3 linked regions of the Homo sapiens genome follow. The protein of the gene in region 3 purifies or fractionates together with the protein of the main gene of each other region. This does not show direct contact. Each region holds a gene or a part of one and is shown on either strand. Other genes may lie near its edges.

What was found.
Region 1: the proteins of MLXIPL (region 3) and CNTN2 purify together in Homo sapiens (affinity purification with mass spectrometry, with the first as the bait; one study listed by BioGRID). This does not show direct contact.
Region 2: the proteins of MLXIPL (region 3) and PHF2 purify together in Homo sapiens (affinity purification with mass spectrometry, with the first as the bait; one study listed by BioGRID). This does not show direct contact.

What each region holds. Positions count from the first base shown.
Region 1 is NC_000001.11:205,074,097-205,076,533, forward strand, and holds part of CNTN2 (contactin-2 precursor), read left to right. Parts: 3' UTR 1-2,437. UniProt on the Homo sapiens protein: In conjunction with another transmembrane protein, CNTNAP2, contributes to the organization of axonal domains at nodes of Ranvier by maintaining voltage-gated potassium channels at the juxtaparanodal region. May be involved in cell adhesion.
Region 2 is NC_000009.12:93,656,548-93,660,195, forward strand, and holds part of PHF2 (lysine-specific demethylase PHF2), read left to right. Parts: coding exon 1-48; intron 49-1,597; coding exon 1,598-1,689; intron 1,690-2,963; coding exon 2,964-3,053; intron 3,054-3,644; coding exon 3,645-3,648. UniProt on the Homo sapiens protein: Lysine demethylase that demethylates both histones and non-histone proteins. Enzymatically inactive by itself, and becomes active following phosphorylation by PKA: forms a complex with ARID5B and mediates demethylation of methylated ARID5B.
Region 3 is NC_000007.14:73,593,462-73,597,109, forward strand, and holds part of MLXIPL (carbohydrate-responsive element-binding protein), read right to left. Parts: intron 3,472-3,648; coding exon 3,404-3,471; intron 3,329-3,403; coding exon 3,178-3,328; intron 3,019-3,177; coding exon 2,903-3,018; intron 2,812-2,902; coding exon 2,692-2,811; intron 2,509-2,691; coding exon 2,381-2,508; intron 2,300-2,380; coding exon 2,176-2,299; intron 943-2,175; coding exon 813-942; intron 523-812; coding exon 404-522; 3' UTR 1-403. UniProt on the Homo sapiens protein: Binds DNA as a heterodimer with MLX/TCFL4 and activates transcription. Binds to the canonical E box sequence 5'-CACGTG-3'. Plays a role in transcriptional activation of glycolytic target genes. Involved in glucose-responsive gene regulation.

The sequences.
Region 1 (2,437 bases), on a different chromosome or scaffold from region 3:
AGATGGCCCTCTGGGACCCTATACGGACTCCGCCACTTGAGAGCAGTCCTAGGCCCGGCAGGAACACCAGACATGAACAGGTTGAAGAACTGGAGCGAAGTGCACACCTCACCATCCTTCAGTCTAAGGAAGAAGGGCAAGCCCTGGGACCAAGAGCTCTCCCGCCTTCTCCCTCGAGCAGCAGCAAGGACCCTGACGCTGTCCCCGATAACTCCCTAGGGGCTCCTGCCTGCCCAAGCGGCTGAGAACCAGCGCCCCGATGCCTGAGGCTGGGAGCCTGAGCCCCTTCAGCTTTGAGGGGGGTGATACTCCAGGCTGTTTGGGGTGGGAGCCAAAAAGAGTTGAGAGGCCAGGGCCCTTGGTGGAAAGGGGCACCAGCCTTGGTCTGAGATAGTCACAACCCAGGTGACGATGCCCTCTCAGCCAACACTGCCAACCTGACCCTGTCATCCCGATTGACAGCGCCACTTCAGGTGGCTGGGTGACTAAAGGGCTTGTCTTGGTGGGGTCTCCCACCCCTCCAAGACCCATTCTGCACAGTCCCTCCAGGGTTTGGGCAGGAGATGGCCAATCATGCGCCCACCTCTCCAGTGCTGCCTGCAGTCAGCTCGGCCTCCCCGACCTGCAGCCCCAGACTCTGCTCTCCCAGCACTGACTCACTCCTGCCTGGGAGGGGAATGCAGCATTCATGCTGTGTGTCCTGGTATTGGGAGGTTTCTGGGAAGGGCAGAGGATAAATGTGGCCCTGCCTGCTCCCAGGTATACCTAGGACCACCTGGCCAGATCCGCTCCCAGACGGCCTTGGACTGCTTGCATTTCCCCGGAGAAAAAGGGGTTAATAAATGGGCCATCCTTTCCTGAGCTCTGGGTATACTACCAGTCACAGAACGTCAGAGCTGGAAGAAGCCTTAGAGCTCAACTTCTTCAAGCCCCTCACTTTACAGATGAGGAAATGGAGGTGGTCCAGAGAGGGTCTGGGATTCCCAAGGTCACACAGCCCAGAAGAGATGGGGCTGGGTTAAGAACTCGAGTCTTCCACCTTTCTGTTCAAGGCTGTTTGTCTACCCAGAGGAAGGAGGCACTGCTGAATGGCTATGGCCTGGCTAAGAAGGTGATTAGTCAGTAGGGTGTGAAAATTCTACTTCAAGGGGTTCGGATTGGTGATCATGGGGATTGGCATGGCTGGGTTCCCGTCCAAGGTGTGGGCAGAGCTTCTACCAAACTTCAACATGGAGGGCTGACTTGAAGCTCCCTGTCCCCCTCACTCTTGCCCCAAGAAAAGAGGCCAAAGCAAGAGCAGATTCCCTAGGCAAGAGCAGCAGCACAACTAGGAAACCCCAAAGCCCATGCTCCGACAGGTGGCCCTTCACAGGGGGCAGCGGGACAGGCATCTTGAAGGGCATATGTCCTCGGAAGCTCCGAGCCTGTTTTCTGTAGTTTATAGTTAGAGCTCTATTTTGTTATGGTTTTTTAAACTTTTAAGTCCTGCTCTATTTTCCTGGGCAGGTTTATGTTGATGTTTACCCACTACAATTTTTTAAAAATATAAGCTCACATGCCTTTTCCCTGCCACAGCCAAACCCCCACTGCACCCTACCCACCCACCCCTAGCCCAGGTCAGCTTTCCTGGAGCTGGCTAATGAAAGCCTCCTCACCTCTTCCCAACCCTTACAAGCAAGGGTGCTAGGGGCTCAGCTATACGACCATTCTCCCTGACAGGGAGTCCAAACTTGGCCTAGCATCCCTCCTGGCCCCCCTCTGGCCACGACTTGGCCTGTGCCTGGTTCTCTATCAGAAAGGGGATGCTGAACAAAACCTCCTTCCAAGTTTTATCCAATTCGTTCCTCATTGCCTCGGGCTGCGTCAGGGGAAGCAGGGGACAGGTGTCCAGTTGCTGGGCCGAGGGAGGAGCTGGTTTGGCATAGGACCTAACCAGTGAAGCTAGAGGCTACAGCCACTAAACTTGCTTCAGGCCAACGATAGTTACTCACAAGTAAGTACCTTAATGCTAATGAGGTCCACTAAAAAGGGGAGGAAGGCAGACCTCCTGGGAGACCCACGAAGGGTTTTTAGCCAGGGAAAACTGAGCCCCAGGAAAACCTAACCACTGGGCAGGCAGAATTTGTTTGAGGGATAGAACGACAACAAAATAAATGTTCCTGCAGCCTGAGATTTCAGGTAGAGTACTGACTAAGGTTTAATAAGACAATAGGTGACCTGAGGACATGCAAGCTTGTAAAATGCAACAGCCTCCTGCTAGAGTGACTTGTACATGAGCTTGCTTGCAGAAGACTAGATTAGATGTTTCTCAGGATCCCCTCCTGCGCAGGGGTTCTCTGATTTTCGTGTTCTCTGCCCAGATGGGCTGGGGGAGTTGAGAGTGTGCTTATTTTCACTGCGATCATGAGACCACAGTTCTGGGTTATCTCCTCTCATA
Region 2 (3,648 bases), on a different chromosome or scaffold from region 3:
AAACTGCGTGCTGGTACATGGGGAAGCACCTGCTGGAGGCATTCAAAGGTACTGGTCACTCCGGGGTGGGCGTCCAAGCCTGGGGCTCTTGGCTGTGGGGGCAGCCAGACCTGGTCAGGGCTGACTGTCTGGGTGTGAGTGCCGCCTTCCTGTGGCCTGAGCAAGTCCTCTTGGGACTCAGACCCCTGGGGCTCAGTTTCCCCATCTGTATAATGCAGGACTAGATTGAACAGGCTGGGCCTCTCCTTCCGATTGGACTGTCCCTTGTTTTAGAACGAACACTGGGCTGTGGGTTGAGAGGGGTGAGTGTGCATGGCCTCAGTGCAGGTATCAATCACACCTGCTCCACCCTCCACACTTGCCTCCATTGGGAGGGTGGAGCCCTGGCTCTGTCACCAGCTGAGGAGTGGGTGCGAGTGGGCTCTGGGTCCCCTTAGGCTCCCTCAGGGGCCTGGCAACTGGACCGTGAGGCAGGCTTGTGGCTCGGTGGCCCTCTGTGGATGCACTTTGGCATCCCCGGGCCGCCCTTTTCTGTCCCAGGTCCTGCCTGGCCACACCCTCAGAGATGAGAGCAGGTGGCTCCTGCCAGCCACCACCCTGTCCAGGCCTCCAGACTGCCCAGCAGCGTGAGGGAGCCTGCAGGAGAGTTTGCATTTATGCGTGATTTCCTTTCTCGGTGTGGTTGCTCTTAGTTGCTCTTTTTTGGTTCTAATAGCAGCCAAGAGCTCTTTTATGCAGACCCTTTGTACTCTGGCCCTAGTTTGAGAAGGTAAAATGGTCCTTAGTCACGGCTGGCCAGGTTGCGGTAAGATTTTCCCACTGTTCCCCAAATCTGGAGCCCTGAGCTTGACTCTGGCAGAAGGAAGTGCCCAAGATGGGAGTCTAACCCTGCCCTCAGGGGACTGGTGCCAGGGAGGCAGGGATCAGGGCAGCACCTGGGAAGCCACCCCACAGGGCCAGCCTGACTACTGGCCAGCCAGGCCACTGTGGCCATATCCTCTCTGCCTGACCCTCCCTCTCTGAGTGGACGACAGTTCAGTTGGCCCCCAGGACTGAGAGGACCCAGGGAGCTGCCATGGTCCTGGTGCGTCAGAGCCCTGGAGCCCTGGAGCCCTCTTCAATGGGAAGAGGGAGGGGAGGCCCACAGCAGGAGCACACCTCCCAGCTGAAATGTAGTTGGTCCCTACACTGTGCTAAGGGGCGCCATGAGGTGGGAAGAGATGCTTGGGGATGCCTGGTGTGGGCCCATGGACAGCCTGTGGCCTGGGTCCTGGCATGACTGTGTCCCCTTGCTCAGGTAGGGCTGGGGTATTGGGCAGAGTGAGGAGAGCAAGGCAGCCTGTGTTAGGGGCCTGGAGGGTGAGACAGTGGGAGGATGGTGGGAGGGCCAATCTTTCCTCAAGCAGGGCAGGCCACCAGGAGGATGGGCGCCCCCAGGTTCCAAGAGGAACTGTTGGCAGTTGAGCTGGTGGCCATGGGCGGAGGGAGACCTCTGGAAGGCTGGACCTGGCATCCCCCGGTCTGGCTATGTGGCTGGGCATGAAGGCACCTGTGGGCAGCAGGCACCCACCCACCTCACCCAGTGTCTCCTTCCCAGGCTCTCACAAATCTGGGAAGCAGCTGCCCCCTCATCTAGTCCAAGGAGCTAAAATTCTCAATGGTGCTTTCCGATCGTGGACGAAGAAGCAGGTAGGAATCATGTCACAAATGCCCTAGGGCAGGAGAGCAGTGACAGGCGGGAGGACCTCCCTGGAGACCCAGCAGCAATGTCCAGGACTTGTCCTGCTTCAGTGAGATCCAGCCTGGGAAGGACGGTGGTGCTCCCCTGCCTGGCTTGGCCCGGGGTGTGCCTTTGCCCCAGACACCCCATGGGTCCGTCCCCTGCTGTCCACTGATTGGGCCACCTGAGGGCTGGGGGAGGACAGATGTAGATGCAGAGCCCCCTCCATCAGGGGCTCACAGCTTAGTCACAAGTTGGTGGGAGGAGGGTGACCAGGTGCTGGTGTGTCCTGGGAGGAAGGTGGGTCTGTGGGTGGGGGACAGATGGCCTATGGTGGGATGACACTGTGTGAGCACAGAAAGGCCTGGAACCTGGTGGGGGCAGGGAAGGACTGGGGGAGTGGCTGGCCCCAGGACAGGGAGTGCTGGGGACACCCTGTCGGCTCCTCCTGGCTGGCCCTGGCATCAGCTCAGAAGCTAAGCTGCCTGATTGCAGGTGCAGCACCCCAGCCACCTTGCTCTGTGACCCGGGCAGCCCCTCCCTGTGACTCTTACCGATGACCATCCTGTGCGCGCCCCCACAGAAGCCACTTACTGTGTTGCTTAGCATCTTCCCTTGGTTTTGGCTACAGAAGGGAGGGGAAGGTCTGGCCCAGCCTCGAGCACCCTCTGGGACAGTGTTTCCTACTGGGCTCATTGTGCAGAGGTACTATGCCCACTCTTGAGGGAGGAGGACCCTCTCCCAGGCCAGAGAAGGCCAGTGGAGATTTACAGGAAGCCTTCAGGGAATACAGGCTGCAGGGAATACCATGTGTAGCCTGCCTTTCTCATGGGTGGGCCAGGCAGGAGAGGCAGCCAGTGCACTCCCAGGGCCATCCTGCAGCCACCACCTCCGTCAGGCCTCAAGGCCCAGGGCAGTCCAGGGCGCCCCTGCCACCTCACCTTAGCCATGTGGCTGGGTGGAGTGGCCTCTGACCAGGAAGAAGGGATGGGACCCTTGTCCATTCCATAGCCTGCTGGTGGTGGCCTCAGGCAAGCTTGTCCTCTCTGGTACTTGGTTTGTCCACCTATTGATGGGGGCTCACAGCAGAGACCTCTTGCCAGGGCAGAGTTTGGCTCGGAAGCCCCTCGCCTCATGCTCATCTGAGTGGCTCGGCAGTCAGGCGACAGCCTGCAAGAATGCAGGGGTAAGTCAGGACCACGGGAGGTGTCTGGTGCTGACCCTGGGTCCGGTTGTCCTGCAGGCTTTGGCAGAGCATGAGGACGAGCTCCCGGAGCACTTCAAACCTTCACAGCTAATCAAAGACCTGGCCAAAGAGATCCGGCTCAGTGAGGTGGGGCCGTGTCCAGGTGCTGGGCTGGACCCCTGGGGATTGGGGAGGGCCCACCTGTCTTTCTCTGGGTCCAGGGGCCAGCCTAACACAGAGCTGCCAGGTCTGGGAAGGCCAGTGCCCCAGATGGTCCTCCTTGCACTTTCCTGGGCAAGCTTGCCTTTGTGAGGGCTCAGGGTCCTAGGTCTCTGGCTGGGTCTGTGTCCTGGTGTGAGTGTGTAGGGACTGAGAAATGGCACCAGCCTCTCTGAAACTCCCATGGGGAGGGCACTCTGTGGGAGGAGCCCCTGACTCAGCCCCTGCAGTCCCAGCTTGTGTGTTCCTGGATGAGCCCTCAGCCGCTGTGCTGGGGTAGGACAGAAGAGCCTTGGGGAGAGCAAGTGACTCATGGCATGTCGCAGGTGTGAGTGTGTCACACAATAGCATGGGTTGGGTGTGAGTGTGTCACATGATGGTGTGGGGTAGCTGAGCCTTTCTGGGCTGATAGTTCCCCGCCAGCCTGGCACTGAGTGTCTCCAGCATCCTGGTGTGTGGACCGTCTTGGGCCACAGTTTGGCAGAAGCAGCATGTGACCCTCTCCTTTCTGTATCCCAGAATG
Region 3 (3,648 bases):
GTGGAGGTGACAGAGAAACAGCATCCTCCTCTTTCCACCGTTGAGCCCCCGGAGTTGCCAGCCTAGGCCCCCAATGTCACAGCTGCCAAGGCCTGGGGGTCATCTGCTGATTGAACCTTCCCCATCCCCATTTTGCAGATTGAAACACAGCGGTCCAAAGACAGCGGACGAGTCACCCAAGGTCACGGTGCTGGAGCACAGTGGCAGAGCAGGGACGGGGACTCTGCTCTTCTTGACCTCCAGGAGGTGGCAAGTGTGAAACCTGGACCCTGCTCCACCCCCCAGGGAAGGGCAGAGCCAGGGCCTGGGGCAGGAAGGGAGTGCCCAGAGATGATCCCTGGAGCCCGTGCCCAGGGAAAGCAGCCCCCAGGGCAGCTGAGTGAGCAGCAGGGTCTGGCCAGGACTATAAAGGTTTGCCAAGGGTGCCCTCTGTGACTGCCCGTGTGGCTTGCTCAGGGATGCGGCCCGGGTCGGTCAGGATACTGGTAGATGTGCCCAGCTGGCGTAGGGAGTTCAGGACAGCTGGGTGGGAGACAGAGAGAGAGAGACAGACACTTCCTGGGGTCAGGGCCCTACCCTTGGATGTGGAACCAAAGGGATAGGGGGAGGTATTAGTTGGCAAGACTGTCACCCCCTCCTAGAACCTCTGTCTACAGGCGTCTGGTGGCCAGAGGACCATCTGGGGGATGCGGGGTGGCCACAACCCTAGGCTGTGTTGATGGCAAGCTGGATGTGGGATCTAAGCAGGGTGGAATGCTCCCTCCACCCCCGAGGCTGGGTCCCTCTAGCAGGCAGGGAGATGGCTCACGTACTTGGCCGGAGAGCGGGCAGAGAGCAGTACTGGTCCAGCCAGGCCAGTGAGGTCTGGCGGAGGGTGTGCACACTTGCCGTGGACACCATCCCGTTGAAGGACTCAAACAGAGGCCGGATGAGGATGCTGAACTGGGCCCAGGTCAAGGAGCTGCCTGTGGTCCAGCTGGTCCCCCCACACCACGTGGAGCCCTGATGCCCAGTTCAAACCAGGGGAAGAAAGGGCCTGGACACTGTCTAACGTTGAACCCCAATGACTCATGTTGCAGCCCCTACTTCTTCTTTTTTTTTTTTTGAGACGGAGTCTCGCTCTGTCACCCAGGCTGAAGTGCAGTGGCACGATCTCAGCTCACTGCAACTTCTGCCTCCCAGGTTCAAGCAATTCTCCTGCCTCAGCCTCCTGAGTAGCTGGGATTACAGGTGTGCGCCACCACACCTGGCTAATTTTTGTATTTTTAGTAGAGACGGGGTTTCGCTATGTTGGTCAGGCTGGTCTCGAACTCCTGACCTCGTGATCCACCCACCTCAGCCTCCTAAAGTGCTGGAATTACAGGCGTGAGCCACTGTGCTCGGACTTTTTTTTTTTTTTTTTTTGACAGAGTCTCACTCTGCTGCCCAGGCTGGAATGCAGTGGCACAATCTTGGCTCACTGCAACCTCCACCTCCCAGGTTCAAGCTGTTCTCCTGCCTCAGCCTCCCGAGTAGTTGGGATTACAGGCACATGCCACCACGCTTGGCTAATTTTTGTATTTTTAGTAGAGATGGGGTTTTGCCATGTTGGCCAGTCTGGTCTTGAACTCCTGGCCTCAAGTGATCCACCTGCCTCGGCCTCCCAAAGTGCTGGGATGACAGGCGTGAGCCACCGCACCTGGCTTGCAGTCCCTACTTCTGTCCTGCCAAGACCTTCCCAGCTCTCTGCCTCTCAGTCCCCTCCTCCTTGCCCCTCCACGGCCCTTACTGTGTGCTGAACCATCCCCCATCCCTGAGCTCCCTGCCTGGGCTCAGTCAAGAACTTGACCCCTGAGCCAGATCAGGGAGTGGATTCCAAGTCTTCTGTAGTCCTCACTCCAGAGTTCAGATTCTCCCAAACTGCCCTCGGGGCTTCCTGAGGTCAGGGCCAAGGCTCCCCTTACCCAAGGACTCCTCCCTCAGTTTCCCTCTCTGCTCCCAGCCCCCCATCCCTGGGCAATTTTGCTGGCCAAGATGGCCAGGGCATGGAAGCAGGGGGCAGAGCCAGAGCCTGTCACCTGGGAGCAGCTCTGAGCCTGCCCGGCCTGGAGAGCTAGGCCTCCATCCCAGGCCCAGCCTGGTCTCACCCTGCCACAGCCCCTGCAGCCCCCCAGCCATGGGCTTGAGGGAGGATACCACCCAGAACTTCCAGTTGTGCAGCGTACGGGTTCGGACGTAGTCATCAAACATGTCTCGCATCTGGTCAAAACGCTGGTGTGTGATGGGTACCCCTGTGGCGGGCAGCTGCTGCTGGCACAGGCTGGGGGCAGGGCAGGGGTCAGGGGCTGGGGGTAAGGCGGCATGGCCCCCTGGTCCCAGCACCCGCCTGGACCCTGCCTACTTAATGGCGGCATTGAGCTCCTCAATCTCATCCCGCAGCTGCTGGGCCTCCTCCTGCAAGCCCGCACGCTCCTGCTGTAGCATAAGGATGTACTCAGCTGTCTTCTGCAGCGTGGTAGCTTTGCTCACCTGCAGACGCCACCAGGGGGGCTCAGGCAGGTGCTAGAGGCTGTACCCTGGGACCCACTGAGGCACTGGGATGGGAGGAGGCAAGAGTGTCTGGAGCACTCCCCTGCAATTGAGTTTTGGGTGGGGGGGGTCCAGAAAGGGGCCCTGTGGTTTTGGGGGTGCCAGCCTGGGCCCGGGGCTCACCTTGAGGCTGGGCTGGGCACTGAGTGTGCTCACGAGCCCATGAAGGGTGTCAAACCCCAGCTTGATGTTGAAGCGCCGCTTCTGCTCCGCGGAGATGTGTGTGATACGCCGGTTCTCGGTCTCGGGGAGCAGAGAGTTGGGTGAGCCTAGGAAGGAGCCCAGGAGGGCCTGGGGGTAGCAAACCGATCTTGGGGTGGGGGATGGTGCCCACCTTGTTGCTGTCTGGACGGCCCCGGCTGAGGATGGGTTGCGGGGGAGAGACACGGACGCTCAGAGTCCCAGGGCCTGGCATGGAGCTGAGGTCCCCTGACAGCCGCCGTTCACTGCCTGTGGTAGGGACAGACAGACCCACAGAAAGACCGACCCAGGGGAAAGGGTCCCCATTGCCCCCTTCCTCTCATCTGGCCCCAGACCCAGTCCCCTTCTTCTTCCTCCTCTTCCCCTCATCCCCTAGATTCCCCCAATCCCTGCAACCCCTCTCTTTACCGCTGGGCGCTGGGGGTGAGAGCCGCTCCGCTTTGGGGACAAGCAGGGGCCTGGAAGGGGCCAATGTGGCCGGGCCTGGAGGTGGCCGGGGCGGTGTAGGGGCCGGGGTCGGGGGAAGGAATGTGCAGGGGAATTCAGGGACTGTCTCCTGCTGGGGTGGAGAAGGGCGGAGAGTCGGGTTGAAGGCCGTGGGCACAGCCCCACCGCCCAGTGCCCGAGATCTTACCGGGGACCCTGGGGACCGGAGGAGGGTGCTGGATACAAGTGGTGGCTCCAGGGCTTGCTCCGGCTTAGCTGTGCACGGGCAGAACCGTGAGGCTACTGGGGCTGGCCCACCCCCGGCATCTATCAAGACCCCATCCTGCCCCTCCCAAGAGTCCACACCCCTTTTAGGTACAGGCCCCACATCCCTCATTCCTTGCCACTCTGTCCCTTGAACTGGACCTGCCCCTTCACCTTCATCTTCTGCTC